Linked DNA regions of Homo sapiens: region 2 is linked to region 1. A link means that fine-mapping ties the variant in region 1 to the expression of a gene that starts in the linked region. Tissue or cell type: whole blood. Region 1 holds a variant in brackets; the other region holds the start of a gene. All regions are shown on one strand. Distances are between the middles of the regions.

What was found. PIP is the estimated chance that this variant, and not a neighbour inherited with it, causes the effect.
Region 2: it holds the start of HPSE2, and the variant in region 1 is fine-mapped to the expression of HPSE2 in whole blood (TOPMed, PIP above 0.99).

The regions. Positions count from the first base shown.
Region 1 is chr10:98,480,871-98,483,552 of GRCh38, reverse strand. HPSE2 (heparanase 2 (inactive)) reads left to right here. Exons shown (of 12, transcript NM_021828.5): 11 at 771-917. Among named protein-coding and RNA genes, the nearest start is that of HPS1, 35 kb to the right of the region's middle. The variant G/A (reference allele first, on the strand shown) is at 1,384.
Region 2 is chr10:99,234,809-99,237,490 of GRCh38, reverse strand. HPSE2 (heparanase 2 (inactive)) reads left to right here and starts at 1,639. Exons shown (of 12, transcript NM_021828.5): 1 at 1,639-1,978. The coding sequence starts at 1,689. RefSeq lists enhancers at 61-561, 562-1,062.

The sequences.
Region 1 (2,682 bases):
GAAAATTTGGTGAGGAATCATACAACACACGTTTCCCTTGGACTAATGATTCCAACGTCTAGGACTTTATCCATCAGAAATAATCAAAAAGTTTATACACATGACATAATTTATAATGGCAAAAATGTTCAAACATGAGTTGTCTGAACTGCAAACATAGGGGATTAGTTAAGTAATGTTACACTTCTATGATTGAAAAGTTTAGCATTCTTCTACAAGTAGAAAAAGAATCACATGGGAATATGTTTAAGATGTTCATTAATGGAAAAAAATCTCTGTGAATAATGTGATTCCAGTTATGTAAAAACTGAGTAATAATGTGTCAAAGTACTCAATAAATATTTGTCAAATTAATAAACTAAAAAATACTGGAAGGATGTTTGCCAAAATATTATCATATCTCAAGATATGAGGGTTATGGGGAATTTTCTTTTTCTTCTTTTTGTTTCTCAATATTTTTCCTTTTTTGCAATCAGCATGTTTTACTTCCATACTATGGTAATATATGCCATAAAATATATACATTATATTTTCTAAAATCATTGCAATAAATTTAAACAAAAACAAAAGAAGTATGGCAGGAAGTGGCTATCATCTTTGCAAGAAACCACAATAACAAGGCCTTCCTTTCTTTTAGGGTCTATGGTGGCCAAGTTTTTAAGTGCCATTTTCAGGGCTGTTCATATTTTGTACAGTCTATAAATTATTTAGAAGCATCTAACTGACCACTTTGTTTCCATCTTTCACTTCTCTCTTTCTCTGGATCTCAGCCACAACTACGTTCGTGGGTCCATTACACTTTTTATCATCAACTTGCATCGATCAAGAAAGAAAATCAAGCTGGCTGGGACTCTCAGAGACAAGCTGGTTCACCAGTACCTGCTGCAGCCCTATGGGCAGGAGGGCCTAAAGTCCAAGTACGTGCCAACCTGAAAATAGCTCGGGAGCAAGTGCAGCAGGAGCTGAGGGAGGGGGAGGCTGAAGACACCAAGGTTGCTGCTAATTCTCTCAAGGGCTCAGTGGGATGGAGTAGGACAAAGAGCGGTCTGGGGTCAGGTGACTGCTGACTCCTTTTGGGAACATGTTCAAGCCCCTCCCTATCTTAGATTCCCCAGTTGTAAAGTCAAATGGTGGAGAAAGTATTTCTCAACAAGGATACTCTTGGTATTTGAGCCAGATGATTCTTCGTTATACACAACTATCACATTGTAAGCTGTTTAGCATCCTTGGCCGCTGCTCACCAAATGCCAATAGTGCCCCATGGTCATGTAGCAACCAAACATCCTGGTAGTTGAGAACCATGTCCCTCACAGCTGTAACATTCTGTAATGCTGACTCCCTTGTTGTTACCATCTATTAACCTCACAGGGCTTACAGGAAGGA[G/A]CACTAAACAAAGAGTTTAGTGCTCAAAAGGTCAGAGATAAAGAGTCTGTCCTGCCCCTAACTTTATGACTTGAGCACATCACTGCTCCATCTCAGCTTCTTCATCTGAATAATAGGACAGAGATTATATTTTGAGGGCTCTGTGACCCTTTCAAAACTCTACAAATAAACGATTCTGTGACACTCCCTGCCTCCCTCAGTCTCTATTAGAGACTTGACAACATGGATCTCTACAAACAAAACAACTCTAGGCCACAGTGAGAAGGGCCTGGTCAAGGGCAAGGCCACCCCAGCTCCCCGAGTGAGGCCTCTCAGGAAGGGTATGGGATGCTGCACAGACTGGAGGCATTCCTATTCCATTTTTAATGTTTACCAAGTTTAACAAAGCTGTAAACTTGGAGCAGGTGGCTTGCACTCCAACAGCTGCCCACAAATATTTGTGCTATAATTATTCACTGTTTCACTGCAACCTTGGTGGCTTGCATTTGGCTTCCAATTGTATTTGCAATGGGAGCAAAAAACAATCTGGGAAGTCACTTATTGAGTGACTTATTTAGCCCACGCTAGATCTTCATTTTCAGTCTCGGTTCACATGCTGGCTCTTTTTTCTGGCTACATGTACATTGCGTCTGTTTTTCTTTCTTCCCGGTCCTACCTATGTCAGCAGGACTCTATTGAGTATTTTATCCCCTTTCTCTTCACTTCTGAGTAGTTCATGATGAGTGTGCTGAATTCCTGGCCTTCATCCTAGGCAGGAGACCTGGTTCTGGTCCCTGCTTTACCACTAAATAATCATATGACCTGGGAAAATTATTTTATCCTAATCCTTTGGCCTCAGTTTCCTAATCTTCAGATTTCAAGGGTTGTTGTACATGTGGTAAGGTCCTGTGCAGCTTGAAAACTCTCATCCTGGGTGTGATTTTCTGAGGATCATGAGTGCATTTAAATCTCCTGCTGCCATTAAATAATGATCTGCAAAGCCATTTCTGACAGAAGGGCTGACTCTGCAGCAGTGATTAGGGTCCTCTGGTTAGGGTCCTCTGGAACCGAAGAGCTTAGGAGCTGAGCCTGCCCAGTGTCAGGAAGACTGTGTGCACTGTGTGGAGGGGACTGGCCAAATGCTTTAGTCTAACAAGCCAAGGTGTCCATCCCTGCTCTGTTACTTGCTGGCTGTGTGTCTTTAGGCAAGTTATGTCATCTCTGTGAGCGTCAGTTTCCTCGTCTGTGAAACCTCTTTTGTGGAGCGAAGTAAATGAGGTAATCTGTGTAAAGTTCCTGACATATAGTAAATGCTCAATA
Region 2 (2,682 bases), 750 kb before region 1:
TTGGTAGAGGCTTTTCAGGGAACTTCAGTTGAAGGTCATCTATTCCAGCTGTTTTCAGATTTGTTAATCCTGGTCTGGGTGGAGGTAAGAGGATACAGGTTGCTATTACAGCGTTTGCTGGGCTTTAAGACTAACCCTTGTCCATCCACTTCTGGGGAAAACCCTTGCTCTGCATTTTAGGGTTTTGCTTGTTTGATACCAAGGAGGGCCCTGGACGCTTCTGCGTTTCTGACTGCCCGCACTACATAAAGTAGTTCCCTTCATCTGCCAAGTAGAAGTCCCATTTTGTCTCAGAAAGAAGCCGAAAGTGGGGCCCAGCAATGTGACTGCAGCAAACTGTGCCTGATCCCTTTCCCGCGCTTCAGGATAGGACCTAGAGTTCAATTTGCAAGCTGTTGTGGGGTGGAAGCTCAATGAGCAGCGGCGGGTCGTGCATCACAGCGGCTTCCGGCTGTTATTCCCCATCCAGGGCTATGTGACTCTGGTTTTGACTGGGGGCCGAGATGGAAACCCGAAAGTGTCACTATGGTCCCATCTGGCACTGTAAAGGCGCACTTCCCTGCAGGAGGGCTAAGTATAGGATTGACCTCCAGGAGGGTCTGGAGGGGGGACTCTACCTGTGCAGCAGAATAGAGTGGCCAAGAAGTGGCACAGTTGGACGCAGAGCCGCCCTGACTATCCAAGCACAGCTCAGGTAGCTTCGACTTGGCCAAAGCCAGCATGTATTGACGCTCCCAAGACGCTTATTCCTCGGTTGCGGGAAGAGCAGAGCAGAGCGAGGGCGCATGTCCCTTTTGGCCCTCGGATCGGAAAAGCTGCTTGACCAGGTCACTATGTTTTTCCTTCTTGCTACTCTTTGCCCTATGGAGGTCAGAGGATGCTTCGGTGTGGCTATCCAACGCGTCACAGAGATCAGGGCTCCTCTTCGGGGAATGTCCTTCAGGGCTCTATGCTTTGACAGGAATCACCGCCTCAAGACCCCTCTGCAACTTAACCGCCCTTGGTATTGCTGCTTCAACCAGAAAAGGGCCCTGAGCGGACGAAGTGCCTGACGCTGTCAGGAGAAACAAGCGTGCTGTCGGTGGGAACTCTATCCCAGCGCGTCCCGGGTTGGCGCTGGGGCTTTCGGGTCGGAGTCGGAGCTTGAACCGCCCTCCAGAGCCTCTCAGGGAAGGACGTAAAAACGAGACCCTTTGCTCTGTACCCAGACGGTACAACGGCATGGTTTGGATTCCTCCCTCTGCTTCCTGACCCTAGAGGGTTAAATTAGGAGGGTACAACGCCACCCTTTTCTCCTCCTTCCCGCCTGCTCCCCTCCCCTTACCTTTAAAAAGTTAAAAAATGTCTGCAGTAGAAATCTCTTAAAGGGGCGGTGCCGGTGTACGAGTTCTCTTGGCAAGAGTCACGGGGAAGGCTGGCTAGGGGCGTGAGTTCGCTCCACCAGCACCAAAACACTGAAAAAAAAAATTAAAAAAAATTAAAAAAAAAAAAGAAAAAAACAAAACGAGCGAGCGAGCGAGCGAGAGAGAGAGAGAGCGGGAGAGAGAGAGAGTGTGTGTGTGTTGGGGGGGTGGTGGGAGGAAGGGAAAAAAAGGGGGGAAAAAGGCGGACAGACACACACTTTAGATAAGGACAATTAGTCACTAGCGAGACCCAGTAGGAAGAGAGGTTTAAATCAGAGGGATTGAATGAGGGTGCTTTGTGCCTTCCCTGAAGCCATGCCCTCCAGCAACTCCCGCCCCCCCGCGTGCCTAGCCCCGGGGGCTCTCTACTTGGCTCTGTTGCTCCATCTCTCCCTTTCCTCCCAGGCTGGAGACAGGAGACCCTTGCCTGTAGACAGAGCTGCAGGTTTGAAGGAAAAGACCCTGATTCTACTTGATGTGAGCACCAAGAACCCAGTCAGGACAGTCAATGAGAACTTCCTCTCTCTGCAGCTGGATCCGTCCATCATTCATGATGGCTGGCTCGATTTCCTAAGGTAAGGCAGGGGTTTCGATGGATCATTTAAAATTTTTTAGTAACACCCCCTCAAGCCCTTCCTATCCCCCATTCCAAAGGGGAAAGAAGAAAATAAGCCAAGCAGATCTCTCAAAGAGAAGAAAAGAGGTTTTCCTTCTCCTGGATTGTGTGCTGTGAGGCTGTAACTAGTGATTGAGAAAAGCAATGTTTTCTATTAAGATGCACATGTTTGCAATGCAGAAGGCATTTCAGAAACTTATCAGTTATGACTGAAAAAATGTTGTGCTTACATATATCCACAATTAGCCTTCCCGTCTACTTCTGAAAAAGAAACAAGAGGTTCAGAGCAGTTACAAAAGCGAAGAAAAGGTCTCAAACAACAAAGAGCTGAAAGGAATGGGTATGTGTGTGTGTGTGTGTGTGTGTGTGTATGTGAGACAGGAGAGTGTGTGTGTGTGAGTGTTCAAGCGGGATTGCACGAAACTGGAATTTTCCACGGAAAGATCGTTTCGTCAGTTCTCTCCCACTCTCAGAAAACGAATTTAAGCAGAGGCTTGAGTGGTGGGCAAGTTGGATCGGAGTTAAAATTTTTTATTTTATATCCTCCGCTGTCATTTCCAGACTTCAGGACTTTGTAAGGCGCTTTTTATAGACGGAATGCCCCCCTCCCCCCGCCAGTTCCTCCTCCTTAAATCTCCTGCGGTAACTGCACAGTTTAGCTTT